2 linked regions of the Homo sapiens genome follow. The protein of the gene in region 1 interacts with the protein of each later gene in a biochemical or structural test. Each region holds a gene or a part of one and is shown on either strand. Other genes may lie near its edges.

The links.
Region 2: the proteins of G3BP2 (region 1) and RIOK1 form a complex in vitro, tested with the Homo sapiens proteins (one study listed by BioGRID).

What each region holds. Positions count from the first base shown.
Region 1 is NC_000004.12:75,642,390-75,649,432, forward strand, and holds the end of G3BP2 (ras GTPase-activating protein-binding protein 2), read right to left. Parts: intron 6,353-7,043; coding exon 6,250-6,352; intron 4,769-6,249; coding exon 4,640-4,768; intron 4,068-4,639; coding exon 3,949-4,067; intron 3,314-3,948; coding exon 3,041-3,313; 3' UTR 397-3,040; downstream 1-396.
Region 2 is NC_000006.12:7,406,798-7,413,840, reverse strand, and holds part of RIOK1 (serine/threonine-protein kinase RIO1), read right to left. Parts: intron 3,456-7,043; coding exon 3,390-3,455; intron 2,510-3,389; coding exon 2,390-2,509; intron 953-2,389; coding exon 899-952; intron 1-898. UniProt on the Homo sapiens protein: Involved in the final steps of cytoplasmic maturation of the 40S ribosomal subunit. Involved in processing of 18S-E pre-rRNA to the mature 18S rRNA. Required for the recycling of NOB1 and PNO1 from the late 40S precursor.

The sequences.
Region 1 (7,043 bases):
AATTAGTTCCAATTTCTGAACTTGAGTCATGTCCATTAACTTCAGGTAACCTCAATCTTCTCATCCCTTCCCTTCTCCTTTCTTGTGAGATGCAAGGCAGAAAATACTTTAGAAAATCCAAGGTTGTAATCTGCTTTAGATCATTCTCATCATTCTTACTACTTATTATTCTAACATTCAACCTGTATACCAGCAGTCTAACTGGACGGAATAGATCTCTTACAATGGTCAAGTGTTACTTAAATGTTTTACTTTTTTTATACGTATCAAATTTCACAAATAAATTGTTTTAAAACCCAACTGCTTATTATTCCCACTTAGTTTGTATGAAATGCAACTGGGAGAAAACATTTGGGAACAATAAAAACTATAGATTAAATTAGGGACATAGATAAATGCTGCAGACATCAGTAGTTTATTGTTTGTTTAGTCCAAACACATTCAATATGGAAACTCAAAGAATACTTTCCACCTGAAACAATTAAACTAGATTCTACTAGCATATAATGCTTAACACATTACAGCAATAAAGATGGTAATCCATTGTCTTCTATACCTACTAAAGCCAAGATGGTAAAGCCAATTTGGTTGCAATAGTGTCATAAGGATAGAATATTACCATCAAAAAATAAAACAAAATCAGCAAATAACAGTAATGGTAGATGAATATTTTTACTCTGTTTCACTGAAAAGAGGACAAAATGTTAAAACTCCACAGTACTGCAGGTGAACAATCACCATGTAAACTTCTCCATATGATGTTTTAATGTTTTATTCATGGTATGTAAAGACTGAAGCTGAATGGCTCTTTGCTCTACTTTTCTATTATTACACTTAACATTTGTCATTACTTTTGGTGCCAGAACAGTTTTCATGGATGGCAGGGCAATATCCTGAATTGGAAATTATATATATATATATATATATGGAAACAGAAATACAAGAAAATATGCTTGGGGGAAAAAAAACATTGACAATAAAACAACTGCTTCTTTAAAAGTAGTATTAATAAAGGCTTCAAAACTCCAAAGTAATTTTCTGGTAAGAATTTCAAGTACTATATCAGAAAGTATAAAACTGTTTCAAACAGAAAAAAAAAAAATCCTTAAGCCCCCCAAAAATGGAAACTATGAAAATCTGTGTCCCCAAAATATATGCAATAGTGCAAGACTTTCCCTCAAACATGGAAGACCTCATTCAAAGGGGGAAAAAGGGACAGATTTTACTCATATTGCCCAGTACATGAAAAACAAAATACATGCATCATTTGCTAGTTTACTAAATAGCAAACAGTTGCATAATTCAGAACCAATTTGCTACTATGTCAAGTGCATATCTTGTCTGTTTTACAAAGATAGAATGGAGAAGTCTTCCATGCTAACGAGCAGCTTTAAGTGGTCACACTTATTTACCCCACTCCTGCCTGAAACATCAGAAACTGGTATGTACTGACTGCTCCAAGCATAAAATTGGATAAGCTTTGCCATACTTGTGGTTTACTGGAACTTGCTATAAAGACAGACAATAATCCAGCAGCTACAAACTTTGCTCACAGAATTGTTTAAAGATTCATGTAAAAATAAAAGATGTCGTCCCAGACTTAAATTCAGGAGCCACTCGGGTGCTGACATCAGTTCAAGAATTGTGCAAAATGAATGACAGTTCCCTGCCCCCCAAATAGAAAATGCAAACACTTAAAGAGCTGCTGTTCTTTTCTCCGAAAATTGCAGTATCCTCACTTCAGGCTTACTTGCCATTTATAGAATCTGACTGCTTTTAAAATGTCACTAAAAATGTACGTCAAGTTGACTGACTTTTCCAAGCCCTGAAGTGATATGTTTCAACGTCCACATTCAGGCTAAGAGAAAAGTCAACTAGAGGCTTACTCAAATAACTGACTTCCTCCTTCCCTCTCCCCACAAACACACAGGACTCCCTCCCTCCCACAGAGAACACAAAGTTGTTAACTGAAGAACAAGATAAATAATATGCTAGTCCATTTTACTGATTTTAAAGATACTGCAATTTTTATACATTTCGATGATTTTTCAACATTTTGCAGCTGTTTGGCTTTGCAGCACAGCAATTCATACACTATACTGTACAAAATTACCAGCAAGACTGGAATGATGTATTAATAGAAGGCACCATCATGCTTATTACATTACCAGAGAACAAAAATACAGTAAAGACAATTTTCACTGTACACAGCTTAAAGAAAGGAAAAAAGGGGAGGAGGAGTGTGTTGAGCAGCCAGCCATCCCTGTACTGAAGAGGGGCAGGTAGAAAAATCTTAGATATGGAGCTACTAAATCTGGTCTAATAGTCAAGACCATCGCATTTGAAGTTCTAATTTTTATTATTTAGTTCATAACTAAAATGATTTCCTTCTGGAATATACTTGTAGTCTTGTTAAGGTTTATGTGTACACACGCTGGTCACAGCAAGCAGATAAAATGCCCTCATCATTTCACAAACTATTTTCTACTGGAAAAGAAGATGAGATTTTTTCCCTGTTGCCTCCTGTTGCAGATGTCAATGTTAATGAGTTCAGAGTACCCATTAGTACATTTTGATGAGTGCATAACAAGTTTCTGTTGGTTTGTATTTTTGGGGGGAGCCAAGAAAAAAGGCAAGATTCTCCAATTGCACAAATTGCACTATTTGTGTTCCCAGCATTAACAGGCAGAAACAGTAACACTTAAACAAAATGTGCAGCAGAAGATTTTTTTTTTACTCAAAGGACCTGAATTCAGTGGGCATGTCCTTTTAAGTTCACTTTGTCGTAGATAGTTTAAGATATGGTCATTTCTCAGTCCTTAATTCTCCAAGTCTAGATTTATAAATTAACAATGTGAATCCTGTTGTGAAATTGGGGAAATAATGTCCACCTCAATTTAACTGATAACCAAAGATGCTTTTCACATCAAAGAAATGATCAAAAAGGCTGTGTCACATTCCAAAGCCAAAAAAAAAATTAACAAGAATGCAAACACGATGAATAATGTACCACTGCCAAGACTTTGCCAACAGTGGAGCTTCAGCGACGCTGTCCTGTGAAGCGGCCCTCCATTTGCCCGGTTCCTCTTCCAGAGCCAAGTTTCTGTGCCATGCCACCCCTTGGAGGAGGTCCTCTTCCATCACGATCACGCATCATTCCACCACCCACAATTCCACGTGGACCACCGGGACCTCGATCATTGCGCCTAATATCCCTGCGATCATCACCACCACCTCTGGTTTCTCGCTCTCTTGCAGCTCTTGTTTTTTTCTCTTCCACATTTAAACGTACTTCCCCTCGAAACATAATCGGCTTTATAAAAGAGAAGAAAAATATTTACATGGGCAGGTTAGACAGCAATAGAAATGATTACTCTGAACAGGTCAGTCAGATAAGCATAAGGAATAAAACACTTTTATCAGCCCCCCACCCCCCAGAGATAGGGTCTCAGCTGTCACCCAGGCTGGTGACAGCCAGTGGCACAAGCATGGCTCACTGCAGCCTTGACATCCTGGGCTCAAGTGATACTCCCACCTCAGCCTCCTGAGTAGCTGGGATTATAGGTGTCTACCACCATGGCCGGCTATTTTTCTTTTTTTGTAGAGACAATGTCTCACTGTTGCCCAGGCTGGTCTTGAACTCTCCTGGGCTCAAGCAATCCTTCTGCCTTAACTTCCCAAAGTGCTGGGATTACAAGTGTGAGCCACTATACCCAGCCAAAATTCTTAACATGCAATCTTGCAATCTTTCCCACCTTCTTCAGCAAAGCAAGTAACAAAATTTAAAATGATCTGCAAACTAACAAATCTTTATTCTTTGCATAAATACCATTTAATAACTATTTTTAGCTTTATTATTAAAAGATTTTCTATGGTTTTTAAATACCCCAAATTAATATATACAACAGAAATAATAAAGTCTTGAATTATGCCCTTTAAATCACTTACTTTTGCAATTAAGATTCTCTGAACTGGTTCAGAGTCATCAAAAACCACAAAACCAAAATTTGGAAGCTTTCCCCCAACACCCTTGGTATTGATGCGAAGTTCCACAACGTTTCCAAAACCTGTGAAAATATACATTACATCAAGGGTTAAATATTTTTAACAGAATACCTTGATGGCTCTAATTGTTCAGGATGAATATCGTTATCTCCCCGATCCATTTTAAAATAAAACTCGCAAGCTTCTACACACAGTGATAGCCAAGGTACGTTTACTCAAGCAGGCAATCCCCTAAGATACCAAGTAGCCTGCCCGCCTGCTGTGTTACCTTTCTGCATCTTTGGTAGTCCTTTCATAAGTAAAGTTAACTGCATAATTTTGGAAAGACAATGTATTTTCTCCTAATATATTGACCCATTTGCCAAATGAATCCTTTATCTCTGAATTTATGACTGATTTATCCAGCTGTTTCTTCTAAACACTACTGAGCCAGGCCAAATCAACACTAAGCAGTCACTGAGAAACATGTGAGATAAGTCATCTACTCCCTTCTGCACAATTAAGGTGGGTCTGGTAGCTGGACACAGTATAAAGAGAGAAACATTTAAAAAAAATAGTTATTAAAAAAGCTCCATATGCCTCTTGCTTAATTTAAAATAATTTAAAAACTCCAACAGCAAAATAAATCACTTACTCATGAAGAATTCCTTTAGCTCATTTTCATCAATATCATGTGGCAAGTTACCAACAAAAAGTTGATGACTATCTGGATAGCGAATTATTCTACGGTTGTCAGAGTCATTCTGTTCCATATCTCCTCTGCCTGAGAATAGAAATAGAGCAGATACTAAAGTTTACAATATCATAAAAACTACTTCAAAGGAGTGAATGTAAAAATCACTTAATATTGATATTCCTGTTTTAGTTTAATAAGACTAGGTGAGCTTCTTGAAAAAGAGGCAAAAGTACTTATTACTAGTAGGTTAGAAAACAGCATGACACTAAAATGTAAAGTGAGGACAATGACTAGGTTGCTAAAATAGCTTCTTCTAGATCTACTGGATTATACAAAAATCAAATATTAGTACTACAGGTATTCCTCCTTAACCAAACTGTTGCCATCACCCAGGAACCAAGCAGATTTCAGATAGTGAGGTATAGCTTACTAAATATTTGCTTAGTTTTTTGAAATTCAAAATTCTTTGGCTTTATGACATTACAGCAATCAGTAAATTTTAACAGCAATCATCACATTTATGCAGTCTATACATATTAAGTGTGTATGTATATAGATATACATAAAATCTTATTTGATTCTCCCAATAACACAAGGAACACAGTGAGGAAAATAGGCAATACAAGAATAATTTGTGTAATATTTGACATAAAAGAAGCTCAGAATTTAAGGGTTTCACTCAAGATCCCAAGTTTAATCACTGACAAATTTAGGACTTCTAGTTTGGTAACATATCACTTTAAAAATTCACATTGTAAATGTGATATATACTATCTCCATCTCTCCCATCTCCTCCCCAAAGCAATCTAAACATTCTTACAGAGTTCAAATAAAAGTATTACATGTGTAGCTAACAAGGTAAACAAGTCAAAAATCATGGCAACTTACTTAATACCTAAGAATCAAAATGGGCTTATTGTTTATCTGTAAAGAGATAAGACTGCTAAGAGAGTAGGTTATTGGCAGCTTGGTTTTGAACTCTTAAAACCAGTGACTAGGCCGGGCACAGTGGCTCATGCCTGTAATCCCAGCACTTTGGGAGGACGAGTAGGGCAGATCATGAGGTCAGCAGATCGAGACCATCTTGGCCAACATGGTGAAACCCTGTCTCTACTAAAATACAGAAAATTAGCTGGGCCTGGTGGCGTGTGCCTGTAATCCCAGCTACTTGGGAGGCTGAGGCAAGGGAATCATTTGAACCCGGGAGACAGAGGTTGCAGTGAGCTGAGATCACGCCATTGTACTCCAGCCTGGCGACAGAGCAAGACTCCGTCTCAAAAAAAAAACAAACAAACAAAAAAAAAAAACAAAAAACCGTGACAATAACCAAATAAGACTTAAGTCTTTTACACCTTCAAAATATGTCACCATGGCATGTCAACCAATCCTCCCTAAAAATTGGTTATTTGGCCCCAGACACTATTTAGCAGGTTGCTCACATCACATCTTTAAGCAATTTGAGACTATATGGGTCTGTGTATAGAACGCATCATAGTTTTTTGTTTAAGTTCAGTCTTTTACAGCCTTACAAATGTTAAATGCTAAAGGCTATAAAGGAGCTGACTCACCTGGTCTTGGTCCTCTAGGAGGAAAACCAGGTCGTTCTCTAGGTCGTTGTTCACGCACACGAGGTGGCTGAGATTGAACTTCTGGTTTAGCTTCGACTCTTGGCTAAAATATAAAGAAAAAAAAACATTATAAAAAACACTCCACTGGAGAAAAACCAACCAAAGCACCTAACGACAAGTCACTAGCAGACATAACAGTAGTTTTAAGTTTAGAATGTTTTTAACATAGTGTCCTATGTATGAGAAAAATAAATTTTTATCAAGATATTCTGTACCAATCTAGGACTGTAGGTAGCTTTTGTTTTCCCACTTAATGCTGTGTAACTCACAATAAGTTGCTTTTTACAGTCACATTTTTTCATTAAAGTTATATCAACACTGAAATAGCATAAAAGGTATTGCTACCAAAAAAAAAAATCACAAAAATGCAAGATGAACCACTCCATGTAAATACATAAACAAAATTAAAAGCCATCTTCATCTTAGACAAGAATACATAACACATAATTTCTGAAAATCTAATTTGCTATCCTTCAAATGTAACAGTGCTCAGTAGTATTGCCTAAATCTCTGCCCATAACCTTAAAATCAGTATTTTTATAGTTCAAAGTATAAAAATTAGCTTGCTCTAACACCTGAAATTGCTACCTGTAAGGTTAAAATGCATGTTAAAAAAATGACAGAAACTTATAGGAACTTGTATGTAGCATCTCAAATAGTTAAAGTCCTTTAGCTCCCTACTGTTCTTCCTTATGAGAAAAATATGCATTTGAAGTATTGGTCCCAACGATTTT
Region 2 (7,043 bases), on another chromosome or scaffold:
ACTAATCCAATTGGGAGGGAAAACAATATGTGAAGAAGAGAAATTTTCATTACTTCCTGAAATTCAGCAGTTGTCTAATACAGCGCTTCCTAGCAGTTTTTAAGAGTGAGGTTTCCCTTTTATAAGAAAAAAACAGATCTTTAGAAGTCAATTGTACAACAAGATTTTCTAGCTTGCTGCAATAAAATCTTCATGCTCTGGAATCCAAAGCATAACTTCCTTATGACACCTGTTATTATAACTCAGAAATGCAAAATACCAGAATTCCCCTAATTCAATTCTTTCCACAGAAAAGACATGATTTTAAGAAAGCAAACTGTGATCCTTTATTTAAGTCTTCAATTAGGAAGATTTAAAAAAATAAAGACTGCTTTTATGACTGCCTAAGTTAGAATTACTTAATCCCTGCCCTTCTAAAATGTAAAACAAAACAAGATTGTTTTAAGAAAAAAGAACATCACAGGAATCCAGCACAGCAGGACTTGCTGAACTCATGAGATTGTTCTTTAACAAGTAATACCCTGGTAGGAGACTACATTCCAAAGTTCTCCTAAGCTGGTTGTAAAACCATCAAGAAGCACAATGGCTATCATTAAGAGCTCCACAAATGACGACCAGGATACAAAAAGATAAATACCTCACCTGCAATCACTGAACAATTCAGAGACAGAAAGAAAAATAAATTAATTTCCAAATTTCAGTGCTGTGTTTAGAAAGAACACAAAAATGGCATTTCTGAAGATGTCCACAGACTTTGAAAGCAATTATAACATTTTAACAATATAAAATAACATTTAGTTCTAATAATATTAAATAATAATAAAAAACAGTATGACTAGAGTTTATATCCTTTAAAACTGTTTTCACATAAACAAACAGTAACACATGTTCTTCATACCTTCTGAACTCCTGACAAATCTTTCTTCAATCCTGTAACAGTCTGGTATAGAATCTTATAACCAAAATGAAAAAAAAAAAATAAGGATCAACATAAAACTAGACAATGAAATATGCATATTGCACTATTAAGAACAATGTGGGTTAAATAATGTCTCCTATGATTATAAAAAGGTATCTAAAATTAATCTCACTGTAACACAGGAAGTTTATAATATTGATATTATTTCTGTCTACCAGATCTACTGGCCAAATCCAACCAGCCACCTGGTAGTTGTTTTTTTTTTTTTTTGAGACGGAGTCTTGCTTTGTGGCCTAGGCTGGAGTGCAGTGGCGCGATCTTGGCTCACTGCAACCTCCACCACCTGGGGTTCAGGAGATTCTCCTGCCTCAGCCTCCTGAGTAGCAGGGATTACAGCTGCCACGATGCCCAGCTAATTTTTATATTTTTAGTAGAGACGAGGTTTCACCATGTTGGCCAGGCTGGTCTCGAACTCCTGACTTCAGGTGATCCACCCACCTCGGCCTCCCAAAGTGCTGAGATTACAGGTGTGAGCCTCCGTACTGGGCCTTTTTTTTTTTTGAGACAGAGTTCCGCTCTGTAGCCTAGGCTAAAGTCCAATGGCGCAATCTCAGCTCACCGCAGCCTCCGCCTCCCGGGTTCAAGTGATTCTCGTGCCTCAGCCTCCCCAGTAGCTTGGATTACAGGAGCACGCCACCATGCCTGGCTAATTTTTGTATTTTTAGTAGAGACAGGGTTTCACCATGTTGGCCAGGTTGGTCTCGAACTCCTGACCTCAAGTGATCCGCCCACCTTAGCCTCCCAAAGGGCTGGGATTACAGGTGTGAGCCACTGCGCCCAGCCTACCTGGTAGTTTTTACAGATAAACATTTGCAATCAATTTGAAGATAGCAAACACAAACTTTGAGCCCCAATTAAGTGAAATATTATCTGCCCCACATCAAATAATTCCACTCTTCTTTAGTATACTTGTATTACACAAAAGTGTATTCAACTATTATTAAAGTATTTCTAATTTCACGAATAAAAATTGAGGGTGAATTTTTTTCTCTCTTGTTACATAAGGACCTACGTAATCACCTCAATTTTGTTTCTTGGCTTGCAAAGCCTAAAATATTTACTATCTGACCCTTCACCAAAAAGAAATTGTTCCTGAATGATGTATGTTAAAGAAATATATGTTAATGGACCTAATATAATAACCATTAATAGCCTAGACTTCTATCTGAATCTTGTTTCTACAATTACAGCTTGTTGGATTCATTCAAATGTGTTACCTCCTCTCATAAATTCCAAATAATTCCCTTTGCGTTCAATGTGCACACAAGTTAACACAGATAGAGTTAGTCATTTCACTAGCTCAGAAGCCAATATTCAAGATTAGGGGAACTTAAAAGGCCCAGATAGGTTTGGGACAGTCCCCTACTACTTTTGAAGAGCTGCTTGCTATATACAAACCAAGCTACTTACATTATCTTGTTGGGCATTCATGGCCATGTCCTCTTCCTTCAATTTCATAATTATGTCCATATCCCTCTCATAATTTTTCACTTCATTCAAGGTTCTAGGAATATATGCTCGCTTAAACACCTAACAGAGAGGAAAAGCAAAATCAAAACTGTTATTCATACACTTCTCACATTCACACAGCATACTCCTCCATCAGGTTACAGGGGAATCTATATATTCATTCATCCCTAACACTGATGCTTGGCTAAGCTGTCTGCACACACTGGTATCCCATCTGTGATGTGGTGTCCCAAAAGTAACACTACTAATGATAGAACACTAAATTTTGCATATGATTTATTTTAAGGAAGGGAAAAAAAACATTAGAGCTGATTCAAGATTATCCTTAGAATAACACTTCTCCTTCATTTTTGTTCCAAAAAGCTTTTCTGAGCAGGAGGGAAAGGGGCGGAATTACAGTTGGCAAGCGCTGCCTGGCTATGCCTTACGAAACATACCCAGCTGCTACAGTGAAAAAGGTGGAGAGCTGCCGACAAACACAGGGCACCTCATAGTCAACCATTAAGAGTTGTGAGAATTTTTTTTAAAAGCCTACTATGGCTCCTTCACAAAAAAACACCCTGACTCGTTTTTATCAAAGCATAATATTTAAAATCTATAACATTTCTAGAATCAATATTTAAGTCATTTAAAAACTCACATTTGCAAATTAAAAACAGGCTTTTCCTTCTTGACGCCTATATCCTAACAGGCTCTTTAAAAATTTTCTCCATCTAGGACAATGGGCTAACAGGTTGCTGAGTGGACCAATACAGTGAAATGTAAACTATCCAACTTGGCTCACTTAAATCATTTACTATAATATATCTTAAGGAAATATTACCATCATTTGAAAAAGCTGCTTATCTATTTAAATCAAGTTTATGCTCTAGCAACATAAAAAAAAAAACCCTCAAAACACAAGTGTTTCCAAAGGCTGTGAATAGATAATAAATCCTACCTCTTCATCCACATGATCTTGGCTAGACCGTTCTTCCTTGGTCCTTTGAGATGCTATTTCCATGGCCTTGGAAAGAAAACAAAAATGACTTTCTTTTATATTCAAACTGCAGAAGGCACATCCATGTCCCAGTTTTGGTATAAAATTGTTCCAGTCTTTTTAAGTATCACCTCCTCACACTTAGGAAAGCATTTAGTGAGGTCTAATGGTACAAGTTAGCTTTCCAGCACAGACCTCACCAAAAAGGCTGCCATCAACCCAAAAGTAACAATAAATCAAACTCTTCTAGCCTAGGGGGATCCCTAGCCCCCCTTTTTCAAAAGTTATGCTACTTTTACTAAATTTAAATAATTAGCTTTTGCATTTAGTAAATGCTTTAGCATTTACTAAAGGAATACAGAGACCTAAAGAATGAAAGAACCATTCCTTAAATCCTGAGCAGTCGGCGAAGGGAATTGCAAAGGCTGGCTGTAAATCTTGAATATACGGCTTTATTGCTGCTGCACTGAAGAAAGCTCTCTGAGCAAACAATGACTGAAACGAGGGTGACAAAGATTCCAAAGGGTTCTTTTGGTTTGTAAAACTGAGTGTTCTCTTCTCTATATAGAAGAAAGGAAAAAATAGTGGGAGCAGAGGTTTTTTTTTTTTTTTTTTTTGAGTTTAGACACGAAAATCAGTGCTGACCCAGGCACAGTGGCTCACGCCTCTAATCCCAGCACTTTGGGAGGTGAGGCCAGCAGATCACCTGAGATCAGGAGTTTGTGACCAGCCTGGGCAATATGGGGAAACTCCGTCTCTACTAAAAATACAAAAATTAGGCCAGGTGCAGTCTAATTACAGGCTCATGCCTGTAATCCCAGCACTTTGGGAGGCTGAGGCTCACGCCTGTAATCCCAGCACTTTGGGAGGCTGAGGCTCACGTCTGTAATCCCAGCACTTTGGGAGGCTGAGGCGGCTGGATCATGAGATCAGGAGTTCCAGACCAGCCTAGTCAACATGGTGAAAACCCGTCTCTACTAAAAACACAAAAATTAGCCAGGCATGCTAACATGCACCTGAAATCTCAGTTACTTGGAGGCTGAGGCAGGAGAATCACTTGAACCCGGGAGGCAGAGGTTGTGGTGAGCCGAGATCGTGCCACTGTACTCCAGCATGGGTGAGAGAGCCAGACTCCATCTCAAACACACACACACACACACACACACACACACACACACACACACACACACACACACACAATTAGTCGGGAGTGGTGGTGGGCTCCTGTAATCCCAGCTACTGGGTGCCTGTAATCCCAGCTACTGGGGAGGCTGAGGCAGAAGAACTGCTTTAACCTGGGAGGCGGAGATTGCAGTGAGCCGAAATTGCACACTGCACTCCAGCCTGGGTGACAAGAGCGAAACTCCGTCAAAAAAATAAATAAATAAAAGAGGCCGGGTGCGGTGGCTCACACCTATGATCCCAGCACTTTGGGAGGCCGAGGCGGATGGATCACCTGAGGTCAGGAGTTCAAGGCCAGCCTGACCAACATGGAGAAACCCCATCTCTACTAAAAATACAAAATTAGCTGGGCATGGGGGCGCATGCCTGTAATCCCAGCTACTCGGGAGGCTGAGGCAGGAGAATCGCTTGAACCCAGGAAGCAAAGGTTGCAGTGAGCCGAGATTGCCCCACTGCACTCCAGCCTGGGCAACAAGAGGGAAACTCCATTTAAAAAAAAAAAAAAGAAAAAGAAAAAGAAAGTCAGTGCTAAGTTAAAAAGTTGAGGAATAAAAATGACACACTTATTTATTCCATTAACAGATGTGATTGCCTACTATGGGCCAGATATTGGGTACTTGGCAATAGAGAAAACTCCTGTTCCATAAAAGTTCATAATTGAGGGTGACAGAATTAGGGACTTAGTATAATAAGTGACACAGTGTGACTACTTCTATTATAGTTGTAGGAGACTACACCTATGAAAACAATTTCTGCTGAAATACCCCTCCAGAGAGCTTTCTAACTGGAGCTTTAAAGTTCACCAGGCGGAGCAAAGTTGAGCAAAGGCAGAAATGGGAAGGTATTGCAAGGAAATGGAAAAAGAGGAAAGGACAGGATAAAACCTGAAGACCTGGCCAGGCAAGGCGACTTATGCCTGTAATCCCAGCACTTTGGGAGGCCGAGGCAGGCGGATCTCCTGAGGTCAGGAGTTCGAGACTTGCCATGGCCAACATGGTGAAACCTTATCTCTACAAAAATACAAAAATTAGCTGGGCATGATGGCAGGTGCCCATAATCCCAGCTATTCAGGAGGCTGAGGTGGGAGAATCACTTGAATCCAGGAGGTGGAGGTTACAGTGAGCTGAGATTGTGCCATTGCACTCCAGCCTGGGCAACAGAACGAGACTCCATCTCAAAAACAAACAAACCTGAAAACCTGTGTAGAGGCATACATGCCATGTGTTCAAAACTCTATGATTCAGAGACAAAAATAAAAATAGATAAACTGGATCACATCAAAATTTAAAACTTCTGTGCATCAAAGCTTGCAATCAACAGAGTGAAAAGACAAGTCACAGAATGGGAATAAACATTTGCAAATCACGTATCTGACATATCCAGAAAATACAAACAACTCAACAAAAAAAACCAAACCTGATTAAAAAAAAGACATGGGGCTGGACACTGTGGCTCATGCCTGCAACCCCAGAACTTTGAGAGGCCGAGACAGAAGGAGTGCTTAAGCCCAGGAGTCTAAGACCAGACTGGAAAACACAGTGAGACCCTGTCCCAACAAAATGAAAAAGAAAAAAAAAATTGGCTGGGTGTCATGGTCTGCACCTATAGTCTCAGCAGGCTGAAGCAGCTGAGGCAGGAGAACTGCTTGAGTCTAGAAGGTTGAGACTGTAGTGAGACAGGATTGTACCACTGTACTTCAGACTGGGTAACAGAGAGACCCTGTCTCTTAAAAAAAAAAAAAAAGACATTTCTCCAAAGAAAATATATAAATGGGCAAGAAGCACATGAAAAGATGCTCAACGTCACTAGTAATCAGGGAAACACAAACCAAAACCATAATAACATACACCTCACACTCATTAGGGGGTCTCTCATTGTCAAAACAAAACAAAAAACAAAATAATAGGTGTTGGTGAGGGTATGGAGATTAGTAAGTGCTGGTGAGGATGTGGAGCGATTAAAACCCTTGTGCATTGTTGGTGGTAATGTAAAATGGTGCAGCCACTACAGTAAACAGTATGGTGGGTTCCTCAGAAACTTGAAAATAGAAATATCATTTGATCCAGCAATTCTACTTCTGGGTGTATATTCGAAAGAACTGAAAGCAGCATCTTGAAGAGATATTTATACATCCATGTTCATAGCAGCATTATTCAGAATAGCCAGAAGGTATAAGCAACCCGTATGTCCATCCACAGATGAATGGATAAACAAAATATAGTATATACATACACTGGACCATTATTCAGCCTTAAAAGAAGAAATCCTAGGCCAGGCGTGGTGACTCATGTCTGCAATCCCAGCACTTCGGGAGGCCGATGCAGGCGGGTCACTTAAGGCCAGGAGTTGGAGACCAGCCTGGCCAACATGGTGAAACCCTGTCTCTACCAAAAAATACCCAAATTAGCCGGGTGTAGTGGCTCGCACCTGTAG